Linked DNA regions of Homo sapiens: region 1 is linked to region 2. Evidence: fine-mapped expression QTL. A gene starts in region 2. The other region holds a variant in brackets. All regions are shown on one strand. Distances are between the middles of the regions.

Region 1 (5,389 bases), 180 kb after region 2:
CTTTTAAAACTTCTTAGGTTTACTAATTAAAATTACATTCTTGAAAAGGTATTAAAATACCAAAATGTACATACCATTTGGCCATCATTGCCAAAATATTTTTGAATCAGTATTTTAATTGACCTAGCTGCACTTTTTTTATTTTCTGAGACATGTCTGGCTCTGTTGCCCAGGATGGAGTGCAATGTCGCTTTCATAGCTCACTGCAGCCTCAATCTCCCAAGCTCAAGTGATCCTCCCACCTCAGCCTCCTGAGTAGCTAGGACTACAGGAAGGCTCCACTATGCTCAACTAATTTTATTTTTAGTAGAGAGAGGTCTCCCTATGTTGCCCGGGCTGGTGTCTCAATCTACCGAGTTTATGCAATTCTCCGGCTGCGGCCTCCCAAAGTGCTGCATTACATGCATGAGCCCTGTGCCCAGACTAATCTACACTTCTTACTATTGCATTTCAATGGACTTCTTCCAAATTACTGCAATATCATTAACATAGTAAAACCCATGCTAATTTTAGTTCTACAATTCTAAGTTTTGACAGATGTATAGTTTTAATCATCACAGTCAAGATATAGAGTATCTCTATCACTACAAAAAGTTTCTCATGCTCAATTCCATCCCCTACCACTAGGTACTACAAATCAAATTTACTTTCCTATCATTTTATTTCAAAATGCCAAATAAGTGGAATCACACAATATAGTCTTTTGTTGTCTGGTTTCTTTTATTTAGCAAAATGCTCTTGAGATTCATATCCATGTTGATAAGTGCATCAGTAGTCCATACCTTTCTAAACACAGTTTGTTTATCCATTCCCTAGTTGAGGGACGTTTAGATTGTTTCCAATTATTGGTGAGTACTAATAAATCTCGCTAGAAACATAGACAGGATTTTGTCGGGACATATTTTTTTCATTTCTCTGGCATAAATACCTAGAAGTGGGATTGCTGAGTCACACATAAGTGTATCCTTAACTTTGTAACAAACTGTGAAACTGTTTTCCAAAGTGGCTGTAACATCTTGCATTTCCATCAGCAATATAAAGAGTTCCTATTGCTCTCCATCCTGGCCAGCACTTAATACTGTCAGTTCTAAATACTCTAAATGAGTCCTTTGTTTCATATTTGCTTTGCACATATTTTCTCCCTGTTAGTGGCTTATCTTTTCATTTTCTTAAGTGTCTTTAAACAGAAATTTTAATTTTGATGAAGTCTGAGTTACAAATATTTACTTTTATGGTTCATGCTTTTGTGCCTAAACCAAAGCAACTAAGATTTTCCACAGGAGAATTAATTTAAAACATTTACAAAACTTTGAAGATGGGATAAAACGGGCTTACAGAACACTAAGATACTATATAATCATAATTCACATATATAAAAAATGTTGTATTTTTAGAAATAACTGAATCCTAACGGGGCAGTTTAGACCTTGGCAACTATGTCCTGAGACAAATATCACAAGTACATTTTTTCAAATAAAGCTGTCACAAGTTTAAGGGAAAAGGCAAAAAACTAAAATTTAAACATTCAAGAATATTTCAGGCTGGGCATGGTGGCTCATGCCTATAATCCCAACACTTTGGGAGGCTGAGGAAGGAAGATCACATGAGGCCAGGAGTTCAAGACCAGCCTGTGCAATATAATGAGATGCTGTCTCTACCAAAAATTTAACATTTAGCTAGTTGTGGTGGTGTGTGCTGTAATCCTAGCTGTTTGGAAGGCTGAGCTGGGAGGATTGCTTGAGCCCAGGAGGTCCAGTTTCCAGTGAGCTTTGGTTAAGTCACTGCACTCCAGCCTGAGCGACGAAGTGAGACCTGTCTCTTAACAACAATAACAAAAGAATATTTCGGAAATATCTGAATATTTTTAAAAGTTAAAAACACACACACACACACACACACAATCTCTTTAAGTAGGATGCAAGTAGAAATCTACTGTCACAACATACCACAGAAGAATATCATGTAAGTAAAGAATTTCATTTCCAAATGCAGACAGTTGAAGAGATACACCTCTTCAATTCTAACCTATTCTAGCAGTGTCTCCAACATAATGAAGAAATTCCACAACACAGTTTTTAATGGCTATGACACAGATTGTTTACAATATTTAAAGCTTGACAATAAGAATATATTGTTCATTTTTGATAATCCTTATAAATGAAATTTCTCATAAGTAACATAAAATAAATATCTGGAGAAAAAGTAATGAAACTTCTATGAATATAGGAGCAGATTTTTATATTCTACACTGTAAACTGGACTGATGATAAGCCAAGTCTTAGCAATAATTAATTTACATTTTTATATTCCACATAGCTTTCAGGTAAATCTGAATAGAAAAAAATGTGGAACCCGTATTCCTTATCTGTCGCAGTCCTAAAGTTTATGTTTTCAATATGATCTTAGAATTGTGCTATTTCCTACTGTAAAATGACAGATATTCCATTCAATACATCCTTACCAGAATGACTCTGTCAAAGACATCTTCAATTAGAGTAAGATAAACATAACAATTATGAAATATCCTTTAATTATATTTAAACATTTAGTAGTAAAGTGATGATTTTAGGATCATTTTCAAGTTGCATGATGTGCTTGCTTTCATTTGACAGGAGACTGCATACATTAACAGCAAAGTCTGCTTCATTTGGGAGTTCAGATAACAGTGAAAGCACCAATTTATTATAATCATTTGGCGAATTAAAAATTCCTTGGTAAAGATTCCTAAGATAATTATGTAGGAGAAAATGCTTATAAAATTTTAAGATCCTCCTTTCATTCCCTCAAGGAGATATGGTTGAGTAGCTATAATTTTATAACTGGAATGAGGAGGGAAGTTTATTA[T/C]TTTTTTGAGATGGAGTTTTGCTCTGTCGCCTAGGCTACTGGAGTGCTGTGGATTTCGGCTCACTATAACCTCCGCCTCCTGGGTTCAAGCAATTCTCCTGCCTCAGCCTCCTGAGTAGCTGGGATTACAGGCATGCGACACCACACCTGGCCAATTTTTGTATTTTTAGTAGAAACAGGGTTTCACCATGTTGGCCAGGCTGGTCTCAAACTCCTGACCTCAGGTGATCCACCAGCCTTGGTCTCTCAAAGTGCTGGAATTACAGGTGTGAGACACCGCGCCCGTCCATATTTTCAACATTCTTGATTCAAAATTTATACAAGTGGGTCACTACTGACAAATTTAATCTGAGGCAGTCACTTCTCTTTGTTTTCAATTTAGAAGAAAGGGAGAGTTGTTCCTGGAGTGCTGTTTATGTACACTGTAGAAATTCTACAATATATTCTATCCATCTATATTGGCAGTGATTGTTGTAGTCCAAATGTCTTGTTAGAATATGCAATGCTTAAAGAAAATCTTTACTCAAATATAGCTAATAAAAAATTTTTATATCTTCCTTCTTGAAACCGAAAATTTAAGTACCAAAAATGCAAATGGACCGGGTACTTGGCTTCACTTTATTAAAATGATTGAGTTGGATTAAATCATCATAATAATAATAATCCACCTAATAATTCTGCAGAAATGATTATATCCAATCAATACCAAGGAAAAAAACAGAGAAAGAAGGAAACTGAAGTATTAGGTATGTAATGTCAAAAACAGTATGAAAACCTATGCAAATGAATGATAAAAACCACCATGTACTTGATGCCAATGTTGAAGAATCTTAAAGCTTAAAGCAACAAAACCCACAATATTTTTTTTTGCCACTTAAAGTTATTGGCCAAAAGTAGTCAATATCCTCAAAGGCAAATTCAGGCCCACATTCTATCAGTGTACGATGTTCTATATTCTAGCACTACTGACCACTGAAATTTATTATACTACCATTCAAAATATTTTAGAACAGCTTTTCTTAATGTCAACAATAAAAGTATCTCTGGATAAATACATTTATTCAAAGCTACAAGGGGAATAAGGCTGTATGATCAAATATGTAAATACATATCTTCTCAAAGTTCTAAGTAAATTTCTTTAAATACTCTCAATCTAATATTAGATAATTTCATTTTGGTGGTTTTTTTTTTTTTTTTAGAACACATGCACGCACACACACACGGAGCTTATTCTATTTTCCTTAATAACACATTAAAAGAAAAATTAATGACTTATTTGCTTTATATATTGATAATCATGTCAATTTTTAGAATACTGTCATGATGTTGCTATGGCTCTTTCTAGAAAAACATAAAGTATAAATGCTGCCCTGAAATTCTACCCCTTTTCAGTATGAACTAGATATTCTGTAATCTGATGTTCCCCATCAGTTCCCAGTTTCTTCCTCTTCATGAATCTCCAATCCTGACTTCATTACACATGTTACACATAAAATGTAACTGTTCAGATTCTCTTAAAACAAATCACACATATAATAGCATATCAGAAAAGGGTTGTTTTAACAACAGGTTAAGCAATTCTATCACTCCTTTAACCTGTGTAGCTCTATCAGTAACTTTCATTATAGGCTTCCGAAATACCAAAAATATTTCACATGATCTTTCTCAAAGCAGATCAATAGAAAATGGGAAAAAACAGATTCAGGAAAAAAATCTATTTTAAACAAGACCAAACATAGAAAAGTGTTTGTTTGGGAACAGTAGTAGCGGACACCAAAGTCTGTTTAAGTTACAAGGATTAATAGCTCTGCTATTATTGTAATACAGGGATCACACAGAGTTGTAAGTTGAAAATGATCTTTAAAGGTCATTAGCACAACATCTCATTCGATGTAGGAGTATCTTTTTTAACATCCTTGAATTAGATAATGGTCATTAGCTCTTTTTAGAAACAAGGAGCACATCACCTAACAAGTCACCCCATTTTATCTTATCAGCATAAACTATTAGCAAGCATTTCTAAAGGTGACTTAAAATATTCTCCTTTACTCTTGGTTCTTGCAGTAAAAACTATTCATTAAAAACAAAGCTAGGTTTTGTTGGCACTCCCTGCTTCACCCCTACCCCAATTATACAAAAGCATCAGATGAAGCCTCTTCTAATGGAGATCGCAGATTCTAAAAGAAGATTCTATTTCTTCAGTCATTACTGATTAGGGAAGAAATATGAAGTCAAATTCAACTTTTAAGAAACTTTGAAAATAGATAATACGAAAAAAAAGTTGATGATACTGATGATAGTCCACAAATGAGACAGTATAAATCTAAGGATAACCTGTAAGAGTACAGAACTAGTACCAGTAAATAATAATAATGATAATAAATATTTAGAATAATTATAATTTTTATAAAGAACATAGCTTGAAAAACAAGTATCTCTTTTTTTTTTTAGGCCAAATGTTAGTGAGTGGAAAAACAAAGATGTGTATCTCCTTAGACCTCTCTTCCTAGTCATCACAGTCCTGACCTCCAGAGCCACTGAAAAC
Region 2 (5,389 bases):
GCCTCCTGAGTAGCTAGTAGCTGGGATTACAGGCACATGCCACCATGCGGGCTAATTTTTGTATTTTCAGTAGAGATGGGGTTTCACCATGTTGGCCAGTCTGGTCTCGAACTCCTGACCTTAAGTGATCCAACCACCTCAGCCTCCCAAAGTGCTGGAATTACAAGCATGAGCCACCATGCCTGGCCAGAACCATGTTTTTCAATCCAGTATATTTACAGCATGATTTCCTCCCTTAATTTGAACTTGATATTGTATTCTATTTATAAGTTAAATTAAAATAGCAGTTATTTCTGAAAAAGCTCCATCAAAATCAATACGTTGATTACCCATTTTTAAACGTGCCACTGTGGGTTTCTGTTGCTATGTGACAGGACTGATATTTTAAGTGCCTGGTAAAGTGCAACACACCAAGTGGACATTCAGTTTAAGGCTGTTTTATGATGCATATCATTTGTGCTTTTTACAGTTAAAATCAAATCTAAAATGTTGACAATGATGGTTCATATATCAACTTTACTCCTCCATTTTATAGCCCATCTTTTATTGATTTAGAACTCTGTACCTCTTTATTATATTGTAAATTTAAAAAATATGAAAACATCAGAGAGAATAATAAATCTTTACATCCAAACATAATAAGGAGGATGCTGCATATACAGAAATACACATGAACTTTTCTCTGGAAAGAATGGCCTATTACAAACCACCACTCTCTTCTATTTGCACATGAAGGTAGAAACCACAGTGGCATTAAGAGCATTTTTCCTTAAGACATGCTCACATGATATCTAGGAGGCCAACAGTAAGAACGTGAAAACTTAATTCTCTGCTAGGAAACAAATACATCAAAAGATCTGGTATTTTTAGTTTTGATGAAACTATACTGTTATTATCAATTTAAAATAGTTTTCTATTTGGCAGATTTTATCATTTGGGCTTAAATTTTGAGAAAAAACACTTTCCTAAAACAAAACTGAGATTTTTAAAAATATATTTAGATTTTAAATATATATAGATTTTTTAAAATATAAAACATACACAGAAGCATGTTGCACCAGGAGTCCATATCAGGAGTTACACTCTCTAGAGTGAATCCTAGAGATTGTATACATAAAAAAGCTACACCCTTATTCTGTTGGATGGCTCATAAATGTTGATCTGGTTATAGCTTTCCACACTAATTTTCACTATTTCTCTTAACAATCATCCTTTATAATCATTCTTTATATCCAAATAGTATATATCCTTTACTATTTGCTCTGATTTTGACAGGGAAAGGTCCTTCATAAGAATTTTGTTGTTCCATCAGAAGAAAGCATTTTAACGCCTCTAGCTCATTTTCCCCTCAAATATCCCAAATACAGTAAAGCCACCTAAATTCCCAAACCCCATATCAAAAACAGTACACTGAAAAACTCCAAAGACTTTGACAGCGACAAGACCGCCATTCATGTGTTCCTTCAGCAAGTGCCAGACGCTGTTATGAAAGTGATAAGACACTGTCCCAATCCTCACAGTGTGAGACAGTGAGCAGACTCAACAGAATGCATAGGATGAAAGTGCCAGAAAAGCGACGTCCTCAGGGCGGGAGCAGGGGACGCCGCAACGTAGTCTGCGAGAATGCAGGAAGGCGGCAGTGAAGCGGTCGGTCGGCGGGGCCGCGGCAAAGTGGGGAGGAAACTCATCCCGGGCAGGCGTCAGGGTGGCTGGAGAGCGCAGCACGCGCGAACAGAACGGGGGCAGGCGACAGGAAAACGTGTGAGCGCGCGGCTGAAAGCGACTGGGACCTGGGTGAGCCGCGCGCGGGGAGCAGAGCTTAGTCCTGCGGGAGCCGCAAGCAGGACAAGGGCGTGGGTGGGAGGACTGGAAGGTCAGCTGGTAGATGGGGGACACTGAGGGCAGGCAGAGCAACCGGAAGCTTGCTGCAGTCGACGAGAAGAGAAACTAGGAGGTTAAATAATCAGTGACTTTGAAAAAGTCAAAATACCTCCGAGGTAAAACAAAACATTTAACAACCCGCCGGGGGAAAAAGTGGAGGATGGCACACACGTCACTATCTAACCACAACGCGGAGGCCTTTTAAGTAAATAATGATAAAGTTTTTGTTGTTGTTTGAGACAGGGTCTCGCTCTGTCGCCCAGGCTGGAGTGCAGTGGAACGATCTCGGCTCACTGCAACCTCCGCCTCCCGGGTTCAAGCGATTCTCCCACCTCATCTTCCCGAGGAGCTGGGACCGCAGGTGCGCGCCACCACGGCCGGTTAATTTTATTTTTTGTAGAAACGAGATCTTAATACGTCGCTCAAGCTGGTCTCGAACTGCTGAGCTCAAGCGATCCGCCAGCCTCGGCCTCCCAAAGCGCTGGGATTACCGGCGTGAGCCACCGCGCACCTGGCCCAAATTTAATTTTGTGATGTGGGGTTAAGACATGGGAAAGCCCCTAGGCTCGGGGAGTCAGGCGGGAAAGCTCTCCCCCTGGCATCTAAAAAAATGCCCACCAGAAAGGAGGAAAGGTGGGCTTCCAAATTGCCGACTCTTCACTCCACAGGCTGCATTTCAGGTGGGCAGCGCAGCCAGGTGAACACTCAATCCACCGCAAACATGCGGACACTCTTTTCAATATCAGATTACCATAAAGATAAGGAGCACACCCTGCGCAAAATCCTTCCTGTCCAGTTCCCTTAAAGCCTCTTTCATTGTCCTCCGCGACGCAGCCTGTAAAACTGCCAAAGGAGGGCAGAGGCCAAAGTCCACGCGCTGCGCATGCGCACCATCCGCAGTGTGGGCGAAGGGCGGTGCTGGAAGGACGTTTCCCAGAAGGCCCCTCCAGCGCAGCTGCCCTTCCTCCCGCTCACAGGCCGCGTGACGTGACTCCACCCACCACGCTTCTCGGTCTCAAACAGCAGTTTGCCAGCGCCCCCCTGCGGCCCAACTGGGTACTACGAACATGCACTCAGGGCCAGAGCGAGCGAGTAAGCAGAATGTGGCGAGTCCGGCTGCCGCCGTCGTCACCTTAGCGCGCCGACAGCGAGGGAAGGGAGGAGGAGGGAGACGCGCAGGGAGGGGAGGGGAGGGAGGAGGCTAGACAAGGCGGGGGAAGGGGGAGTAGCGGTGGCTTAAGCCGCGCGGAGCAGCGCAACCTGGGTCGCTCCCTGCTTCGCCGCCGCCTCCGGACCGAGCCAGCGGAGTCAGTGTCCTAGAGACCCTGTAACACCACAAAGCGGACGAAGGAGTCCATGTTGGGGAACTTGGCAGCGGAGTGACTGGGACCTGGGAACCTACTGTGGGGCCGCGGCCGGACCGAGCGCCTCGACCTCGGTCTGAGGTAAACACTGGTCGACCCGCGGGGTGGATGGGCTTGGGCAGCTGTCTGGGAGAGACGAGGGTTAGCGGCCGGCGCAGAGCGCTGGAGCGGGCCTAGGGCGACGCGAGGGCTGACAAAGTTTCGGAATCTCGCGCGGCCCGTGCGACGTCGTGCGCTGGGAGGAAAGTTGGAGCTACCTCTCGAAGTGGGGGAGGCTGCGGCCGGGAGGGCCCCTTTCCCTCTCGCTGCCCCGCGAGGGAGGCTCGGCCCGGCCCTGGGCCGCCGCCGCCTCTCTGTCGCACTCTGTCCCATTTCCTCCTTGTGGCCTACGCGTCTCCCGCCGCCTTAGCTGGCGAAGCCTGTCCCCGTCCGGGTGCAGGGTCCTACGGGGGGGGGGGAAGGGGCTCCACGCCAGAACCGCCACAGACACCCTCCTCCCTGCAGTGGAAACGTGTCCTGCTGAGCTTCCGGGCGCTCCCGACCGCGGTGTCGGCTTTTCTTGGGAGACTTTGGTCGCGAGCGTCCAAGCCCGCTAGTGAAACCAAACTTTACTACGCCGTGACCTCTCGAGTGCGCGAATGGGGAAGAGCCGGCGCTTCTAAGCATCAGCCTTTTTCACTCCTTGATCTGAACTTCAAACTACTCATCCACCCCCAGTGTTTTAAATTCGCTACCTGGGCTGACAACTACGGGGCCGGGAGATATAAATTTAGCCTAATCAGTCGCCCCTTCTGAGACCTAGGAATTTTGAACCATTAAAAAGATTTCCTACAGATGGCTGGCGGTCTTGCCACCAACACGTATTTTGAAGTATTGTTTCAAAAGTAGACGCCTGATTTAGAGTACTTGATTTAGACATTCACGGATTCAAATGTTGAATTTTGAAATACTTCCAATATATTTCCGTATTGTATTACATACAGTGTCTACCAGCTGACTGTTGTTCATTCATTTTGGATTACATTTTGGCTAACATGCTACCACTGACCTAAGATACTTAAGCAAAACTGCTGAAAAATGTTTTTAATGCTTTGTGTAGTAGATGCTGATGTTAAATTTTTTTCTCCGATTTGGGAATTTTCCCCGAATTTTGGGAAAAGCATATTAATAAATGCATTATTTTTTCGTTTTAAAAGAAAAATTAATTTCTACATATCACCACCTACCTCAGCAGCAGAATATCAGGGCAGTACATTTTAAAATAACGGTTGGTTTTTGTATTTTATTAGTAATTGTATTAAAATTTTGACATGTAATCAAGTCTGTTTCTAAACAATTGCTTTCTCTTTCCTGTTTCTTTGGCAGTTGGCTTGATCATGTCACTATTTTGGTTAAAAGATGCAAGAAAAAGTTCATGGGCCTTTTGTTTTTGTTGTTTTAACTAAGCAAGAGAAATGAAATCTTGAAACTGTCTTTGGATTTCTTTTGTTTTATATTATCCTATCGGATAATCTGAATTTATATTTTTTATGCAATGTGAGTTTTTTAAAAACAGTTCTTAGGGTAGCTGCATTTTAGCTATAATATTTTTTGGTGCTTGCAGATATTTTAACAGTCATTCAGTTTTTCACATTCAGATAGTGAACTTTTTGCCTGAGAGTTTGAGTACATTTTAAGATTTCACTGGGGTAAAATTTGAATGTTTGCTTACTGTAAGTATACTCATGCTTTAAAGACATTCTTCAGTATAAAGGGGAAGAAAACTGTAGAAGAAAATTTAAAGTTTCTAAATATGTTGCCAGAAAACATGTCATGGAGAAAATTTTACGGATAATTTTTTAATTTTTTCTGTTAATACCTTCATGTGGTAATAGGGCTAGTGTGTTAAGATCGAAACTTTTCAGGAGTTACTTAGCTCTCTATCGTCCTTTGGCACCAACTAGAGCTTAGACAGTTTTCTGGAAAACCTGTGCTTTTATTCAGCAGAGATAGGATGAATCAGTGCAGTTACATGATACTGTTGATTCATCATCAGTAACATCTTTTAGTAATCAGAAAATACAGTACTATACTACCCATCAACTTAATACTGAACTTTTAAAGTATATCAGAGATAGTTGTAGCACCTTAATTAAAGAGAGTAG

What was found. PIP is the estimated chance that this variant, and not a neighbour inherited with it, causes the effect. A credible set is the group of variants that fine-mapping cannot tell apart.
Region 1: its variant is the best candidate, but not a certain one, in a credible set for the expression of SCAF11 in lung (TOPMed, PIP 0.51).

What each region holds. Positions count from the first base shown.
Region 1 is chr12:45,812,111-45,817,499 of GRCh38, reverse strand. All of the region lies in intron 4 of ARID2 (AT-rich interaction domain 2), which reads right to left. Among named protein-coding and RNA genes, the nearest start is that of ARID2, 85 kb to the right of the region's middle. The variant T/C (reference allele first, on the strand shown) is at 2,845.
Region 2 is chr12:45,988,290-45,993,678 of GRCh38, reverse strand. SCAF11 (SR-related CTD associated factor 11) reads left to right here and starts at 3,105. Exons shown (of 15, transcript NM_004719.3): 1 at 3,105-3,326. RefSeq lists enhancers at 1,992-2,191, 2,672-2,741, 2,752-2,951, 2,670-3,383, 3,192-3,401 and 1 more and silencers at 3,072-3,121, 3,462-3,561, 3,962-4,031.